Linked DNA regions of Homo sapiens. The protein of the gene in region 2 interacts with the protein of the main gene of each other region in a pairwise test. Each region holds a gene or a part of one and is shown on either strand. Other genes may lie near its edges. The genes, in order: LACC1 and OSER1.

Evidence for each region.
Region 1: the proteins of OSER1 (region 2) and LACC1 interact in binary tests that used the Homo sapiens proteins (3 or more experiments, as listed by UniProt).

The regions. Positions count from the first base shown.
Region 1 is NC_000013.11:43,886,284-43,890,102, reverse strand, and holds part of LACC1 (purine nucleoside phosphorylase LACC1), read right to left. Parts: exon of another isoform or gene 3,313-3,819; intron 1,347-3,312; coding exon 1,121-1,346; intron 1-1,120. UniProt on the Homo sapiens protein: Purine nucleoside enzyme that catalyzes the phosphorolysis of adenosine, guanosine and inosine nucleosides, yielding D-ribose 1-phosphate and the respective free bases, adenine, guanine and hypoxanthine.
Region 2 is NC_000020.11:44,207,684-44,212,095, reverse strand, and holds the start of OSER1 (oxidative stress-responsive serine-rich protein 1), read left to right. Parts: upstream 1-1,324; 5' UTR 1,325-1,400; exon of another isoform or gene 1,401-4,412.

The DNA.
Region 1 (3,819 bases), on a different chromosome or scaffold from region 2:
TATTTTTCAAAAGAGAGCAAGAGTTTATTTTCCCAATAGCCAAAGCAATATGAAAAAAAGTATGGATGTTGGCATGAAAAAGTTCCAGGAAAGATGTACCTAGAACAATGTATATTGTTATTCACTTACAGAACATGGACTAGTCAGGGAAAAAAATGCTACACTTTATCAGCATTTATCACCTAAGTTCATATATGCACAGTACAACCTTCCATATTGTCTTATAGACATAATCTAGGTACAGAATTTTATAATCAAAATCAAGTGCTTATTTAAGAAGAAATGTCTACAAAAGTTACCAGGATATCAGGCAAAATTCACCTGGCTCAGCCAGAGTATGCTTTTTAGTCATCTGGCCCTTCATCTCCTTTCCTTCTATTAGCCAGATTTTTCTCAGAAAACTTGCTTCTCCATGAACACTTTATGATATGAAATATGACTACAAGTTAGTGATACTTGATTTTAAAAGTCACATTTAAGAATCAATTTCAAACTTTTCCACATCTGTACTAAATGAGGCAGACTCTGGGTAAAGTTTTGGCGACTGGAATAGAAACATGATTTAAAACATACATTAATTTGCCTTTGTAGTAATGACAAATAATTTTCACCAGTTATTAATAACAAAACCTTGTAAATTAAAAGATGCGAAGAACTGTAAAAAACTTAAAAGTAAAAAACCGTGTATTTATATTATCTAATATTTTTTCTAAAAAACATATTCCTCTAGTTAATTAGATAATAAGAATAATTTTAAAATATCAGCTTCCTGATAGTTCATTACATTTAGGAGAATTTAGCTGAGGAATGGCTGTGAAGTAAAGTACACGCCAACTTTTCTATATGAAGTTTAAGTAGATCTCTTAAAATTAAATGCCAAATATTTCTTCCTTCACTTTTAAATCAATGAAAGATACCAGACAGGAAAATTTCTGTTATTCAAACTCAAATGAAAACAGATTTCATATTTAAAATGAGTGTTTGTGTACATGTGCATGTCAGCTGCTTAAATAACCACCACCTAAATTCTTCTTAGAGTTATTAATTGTTCTCCAAAATAAATTTCATTTTAGAACAATCAGAAATAATCAAACTTGCAGTTGAATGAAATCAGACATACCTTGTGGCTTTACGGATGTCGATACAGGGATTTGGTGAATCAAATAGTTGTACACATGCAGGATGAAGATTATGAAATGCCTCTGCTGATTCCCTTGGAAGAGTAAAACAGCAAGGTCCTACTGAAGGTCCAAGTACAACAACAATGTCTTCCAAACTGCAGCCATATTCTGCTATCATAGCATTCACTGTAGCCATAGCAACACCCAACAAAGTACCTTTCCAACCTGGTAAATAGGAATAAAAAGAGATAAGAGAAGTCAAAACATAAAAAATTTCACCTGAATTTATGTCTAAGTTAAAAGTGAGCAGATTTAGTTTGTATATTTTTCAAAGTCCAGAAATAATAAATTACATTATCATGTGGTTTTTAAATGAGCCATACTACACAAAGCACCTGACACAGAAGAGACATGTAATGGGAGTTTTCTTCATCTTCCATTTAAAGATGCTCTATACTTTTAGTTTCCACTGAGATCATAGCTTCTTAGTCTTCTATTTTTCACATTTTAAAAGATTGTGGTTAAAAACCCACAAAATTTACTATTATAACCACAAAAAAATACTATTCTAAGTATACAGTTCAGTAGTGTTGAACTCACATTGTTGTATAACCAATCTCCAGAATTTTTTCATTTGATAAAATGGAAACTCTACAACTATTAACAATAACTCCTTGTTTCTTCCTTTTACCAGCCCCTGGCAATCACCATTCTTCTTCCAGTTCCTGTACATTTGATTACTGTAGGTATATCATATAAGTGAAATCAATACAGTATTTATCTTTTTGTGACTGACTGATTTCACTTAGCATAATGTCCTTAAGGTTCATCTATATTGTAGTATGTGTCAGAATATCCTGCCTTTTTAAAGCTAAATAATATTCCATTGTATGCACACACATTTTGCTTATCCATTCATCTACCAATGTACCTTAGATTGCTTTCACCTTTTGGCTATTGCGAATAATCGTGTTATCAACATTGGTGTGCAAATATCTCTTTGAGTTCCTGATTTCAGTTATTTTGGATATACTTCCAGAAGAGGAATTTCTGGATTATATGGTAATCTATTTATAATTTTTTGAGAAATTGCCATACTGTTTTCTATAGTGGCTACACAATTTCACATTCCCACCACCAGTGCACCAGGATTTCAACTTCTCCATATCCTCAACAACACTTATTTTCTGAGGTTTTAAAATATTAGCCATCCTAATGGATGTGGGGTGATATTTCACTGTGGTTTTGATTTGCGTTTCTCTAACTTCTAATCCATGAACACAGAATTTCTCTGCATTTATTTGTGTCTTCTTTAATGTCCTTCAGCAATGTTTTGCAGTTTTCATCTCTCCCTTTTTACAAAAATATATCTATTATATTTCAATTAACAGCCTCTTTTTACTCCCTTCCCACTTGCCCAGACTATCGTTCCCTTGCCATCTTTGTCTTATCTGCCTTGCATCTTACAGTGTTCTAAGATAAAACCATCTTCTTTACTTATGCTACCTTCTTGTTGCCAAAGACAGAAAGCTAAGAATATTGCATTTTTCCTTTATTCCCTATATCTGGGTTTGATTCAGCTGATATGGTTGGCCAATAATGAGTACCCTTACACCTTCCTTAAGCACTCCATACTCATACCCTTCAAAAGGTAGGCACTCAGGTGAAGGGATCAATTTTTACAGATAAAAGGAGATGATGAAAGCAAGAAGGACTTAGGTGACAGGTTCAGCCTCTACAGGTAACCCACTGAATATGTGGTTATGGGAAGTACAGAATGAAGACATCAAGTTTCTATCTGTAAGTGGGTAGGATATCAATAATTAAAACAGGAAACCTAACTGGCAGAGAAGACTTTAGGAAAAAAATGTTGAGTTTTTGACATAATGATTTTCAGGCACCTAGGAAGATGCAGACAGTGATGTTCAAAGGGAAGCAACTAGATATAGGCATTTTGAGTTAAAGAGAGAAACTGTCAGGGCTTTTCTACAGATGAGAGTAGCTCTCTTCCTCAGTGAGCCTCCTTAGTTATCCTCTCACTTGTAGTTCATCCACCTCCTTTCTATTTGATTTTTCTATGCCTATCTATATATACATATCTAGTTAAAAGATCTTTATTAAATTAGTCCCATAGAAGAATTTTATTCTTTTTGATATCTGATAAAAGTAGTATACAATGTAGCTAATTATATTATATTTTAAAGTTAATTTATTTTTATTCTTCCAACTTTTTAGGTTCGGGGTACATATATGCAGGTTTGTTACATGGGTAAATTGCATGTCACTGGGGTTTCGTGTACAAACGATTTCATCACCCAAGTAGTGGACATAGTACCGAACAGACAGTTCTTCAGTCGTCACCCTCCTCCCACCCACCACCCTTAAGTAAGCCCCCATGTCCATTGTCCCTTTTTTTGTGTCCATGTGTACTCAATGTGTAGCTCCCACTTAAAGGATACATATGGTATCTGATTTTCTGTTCCTGCATTAATTCATTTAGGATGGCTTCCAGCTGCATCTATGTTGCTGTAAGGATATGATTTCATTCTTTTTTATGGCTTTATAGTATTCCATTATGTATATGTACCATATTTTCTTTATCCAGTCCACCACTGATGGGCATCTAAGTTGATTCCATGTCTTCATTATTGTGAAAAGTGCTGTGATGAACATACGTGTGCATGTGTCTTTATGGCAG
Region 2 (4,412 bases):
TCCAGGGCCAACATCATGCTTCATGTTTAACAACGTTATACAATAAATTGTTAGATTTCATTTACAGACATAGGCCAGGCATTCCAAAGCCTGGCTGTAGTTAAGCTGGACACAGTTAAACCATCTTCGGCAGCCTATCTAGTTGACTACAACTAAGGTATTGGGGAATGACGGTGGATGGGGCCAGTTTTGGTTCAGGGAAAAACCCTCACTCTAGGGGTGGGCCACAATCAACGCCATCCAACTCAATTGCGCAAAATCATCTGTTCTCACGAAGCTTTGAGCAGTGCAGACGTGGAGCTGGAGATTGGCAGGCGAGGAGAGGCACAGCTAGATCAGCAGAACCAGTCCTGGTGATGGAGCGGGTGGCAGCTGTTGCACAGATCACCTTTTCCCGCCTACCATCTGAGCAACATTCAGAATCAGAAAAATGTAAAGAATCCTAAAATTCATCTCCTTTGGTGAACTGCCTAAATCTTTTTGCAAAATTTGGTGTGTAGGTGCATTTCTTTGGCAAGAGGATCTACAGTTCTCACCAGATTCTCAAAGGAGTCTACGCCTGAAAACACGAGATTCACCGATAAGGTTCAACTTCCTCACTTACTAGATGGAAAACTGAGAGGCCCAAAGGAGGAAAAGCAGTTGCCTCAAGACAAACAGCAGAGATATCAAAACCGAAGGCATTTCAATTCAATTCTAATTCTGGCTTCACACTATTGACCCTGGCCACGTCCAATACCTCTTCACTTCTCTGCAGGACCTAAAAGATCACCAGGAGGCGAGGGCTGGTGTCCGAGTCCCGGAGAGGTCGCAGGCAGTCCAGATTCTAGCATCACAGAAACTCTGGCCAAGCGCTCAGCCGGGGATTGTCTGCCATAAAGACCCCCGCACCCTGTCCTCGCCCCCGCCCCGTGGAATTCCTCTGCATAGGTGACTCCACGTAGAGGACCGAGCGCAAGGAGATCCCGGGGCGGTGGAGGCAGAGGACTACTGTGAAGAATGACGCCTACTCACTCACCTAACAGAGAGGAGGAAGCAGGCACGCCCCAAAAGCGGGTCGGGAGCAAATCCACGCCACTGGGAGGAGGCAAACCGAAGAATAACAGGAAATTACGTAAGGCGCACGTGCTTCTGAGGGGGGCGGGTGCGGGGCGTTGGAGAGGCGCGGCCGCCGCCCTGCGTCTGCGCAGTCGTCGGCTGCCGCGCTGCCGAGTCACTGGGGTGGGAGGAGCATAAGCAGGGGGAGGGGTGCATGCCGGAGTGCGCAGGCGCAACGCGACTCCCGAGGCGCGGGCCGCCCCCTTGGCTGGTTTGGATCCGGGTCAGTCGGGTGCCGAGATTTGGGAGAGACGCTCTGAACTGACTGCCCCGCATCACCGGAGCGTCCCAGCTGCGAGGAGGTAAGTGCCCTGACGTGACGGGGAGGGGCCGCAGCACTGCGTCTCAGCTTCCACTGCCGGTCTGGCCGCGGGCGGTTTTCCCCGGGCCCGCCCGCCTTGGGTCGCGTCGTCTCCCGACGCCTCCTGCCTGGGCCGGGCCTGGGCCTCTCCGCGCCCCCTTATCTGCCGCGGCCTGTGCCTGCTGGAGCTCCGAGCTCCACGCTCTCTCCCCTTCCCGCCTTCCCGTCCTCCCGCGGTCCCCCGCCCCGTCTCGCTCCTCCGCCGTCTCCCGCCCAGCGGCAGCTTCCCCTTTTCGCCCTCCTTGGCCGCCCTTTGCCCCTTCCAGTCCTTTCTCTCTCGCCTCGGAGCCCCATTCTCTTTGGCTACCTCTTCGGCCCCACTCCTTTCTTCTCCCGCATCCCTTGTGCCTCGCTCCGACTCCAGCCTCTCGTTCTGACCCCAGGAATCTCCCGAGGAGCGCAACTTCACAGCTGGAGACCCCGGGCGGGCAGTGCCCCTGGACAGCTCCCTGCTTGGCGTTGTCCCCACACTCCAAGCCCCGTCCTACCCCTCTGGGTTCTGACTAGGAATTTTCCTCCGTTCATGTTTAACCGCGACAGGCACAGACTCTGGGTGAAAAGAAAGAACTTTGTGCTTTGGCTGCAGCGCTGCGAGTATAAAGGGATGAGTGGGTTGCACGGAGAGGTGTGAATGTGCTTTTTGTCCTGGGGGCCGATTGTTTCCTCCCGGTCTAGTTTGCCTCTTAGAGTTGCTGGGTTTGGTTTTCTTCCCCATACTCTACGCTTTCTGGTGGTCTGGGAGTTTCGAAATCTTTAATGTTGTGATGACAACGCTTACCCGCGCATCCCTTCTTGATCGTTCTTAGGTCTTCTCAGGGGCCTGGAAGTGTAGACCTAGGCTTGGGATTCAAGGAGGTCTTGGTTAAAACGGCAAGATGTAAATAAGATTGTGACGCATCCATTTTGTTGAAAGAAAAAACCAGGAATTTGGCCTTTTGATGGAGGAACTTAGAAGAACTTTGTAATTTTTGTAAGGTTGTGGAAAATCCGAGGCAAAGTTAAATTGCCTGGTGTGATTTGACTTTAACTTCGAATAGGCTTTTTAAAGTTTCATCTCTTTGGAGATTGTTCAACTTCACGAGTTCACTGCAGTGAAAACGCCAAGACTGTCTCCCACAAATTTAATATTAATGAAGAAAGGCAAGCCAATTATATCTGTTGTCCGGAGTTAGTTGTACAGCCCTTTCTTTGAATGGGGATCTGGGGATGCAGAGGAGCATAATGAGCCTTTTATAATTACAAACATGCTCTTCTCTAGCTCTTAAGGTTATGCCTAACGCTCATTTGCTCTTGGCTAAAATAACTGAGAAAAAAAGTGAGTAGTAAAAAAATGCTGGAAGTCTGAAAATGGTTTAGACAGAACTTCATTCCTGAAGTTTTAGTCTGTAGCCAGATTTTAATTCTGGCCTGTTTTGGTTTTTAGATGATAGATCTTTTAGTGTGTCAACAGGAATGTAAAGTTTGTATTAACATCTAGGGTGATCACCTGCCATGCTATTAAGTCAGCATGGTATAATTAAAAGTTACATATGTAGGTTCAGAGCCTCTTAGCACAGTGTTACATTGTAAGCTCTTGGAGGGCAGGAATGAGATTCTAGTCCTTACGGAAATGGAGTTTGGGCTTCTATCCCTAGCATTCATTCTAGTGCCATGCACGTGGTAGGAATTCTGTAAATATTTGTGAAAGAAATGAATTTCTGCCTGTAGGGTTCAGCAGTGTATACTTAAATGTGATGTGTACGTAAATGCTGACTGATTTCCAGAGAGGGCTAAAGAGGACTTGGGGGGCGGTCTGCGGGTTGGGGAGATTGGCTCAGATGATTTATGAACTCGGTAAGAGCTGAACATTGACTAACGGATCATAAGGTAATTGAGGAACATTGTAAGTCAAACTTCAATTTAGTTCTACCAGCAGGAAGGATTTGTTTACAACCTGCAATAGTACTCTTTTAGATGATGTGAAGCTTTGAAAATATTGAAATAAGTGATTGCTCACCTCTCCCCCCAGGTATATAGGAATTGATTGTGTATTTGGGGGATCCTACCCTAAACTGAGAATTAGAGACTAGTGAAGCATGGGATTGTGTGGATAATGTTTCTTCATGTTTATGTACTTAAATAAACCAGCAAAATATACGTCGAGAATGTATCTAAATTATTTTTTTGTCCTAAGAAGTTGAGGTGCAGGCTGGCTGAATTTTTTTTTTTTTTTTTAGTAGCTGAATTCTTTTGAGACTGTTTTCAGTGTTCCCCAGAGAGCTCTGCCTAAAATACCTTAACTTCCGCAAATAAGTAAAGTGAAAAGTCCTGATTCCTTGCCTCTTTATTTTGCGCTGGTACTACAATAATATAATGGTTACTTTATATCAAACATTATGACACCTTGACCTTTGGAATATTAGAGGTCTCACAATAACTTCGGAGCCACCTTGAGAAACGAGCAGATATGAATCAGAGAGGACCCAAGGGCCGTTGGAGAGGCACTGCTCCCTCTGAGAATGCCCAAGAGGGGTGGGGGCGGGGGGGGGCGGGTAAAGGCTTAGAAATAAAGAGGTGAAGTGAACCTTTTGCTTCAAATATTCTCTATTTCTATTTTTTTTGTGGTACTTTTCTTCTGATTCTCTCTGATATGTTCATAGATGCTGGTTTGCTTAATTTGTATTCAAAATTTGGTACTAATAACCCTGAGTGAAAAAATAATTTGGAGACTAGATTCAAGGGTTTATTAACAGACTTCTCTGTTGTGTTTCTTGTTGCTTTGGTTGGTTCTTCATCTACCTTTCTCTGTTTAAATATAAAAATCAGGTGGAAAATATGGAGGACTTTGATTAATCAAACTAGTTAAGAGATCATTTAGTGGTGCGTCTACACAATAGTCATTTCTGTTTTTTTTCTTTACTTTCAACCTTTCTTTAGGCTAAAGAGAAGTTTGTTTGTTTTCTTTTCTTTTTCC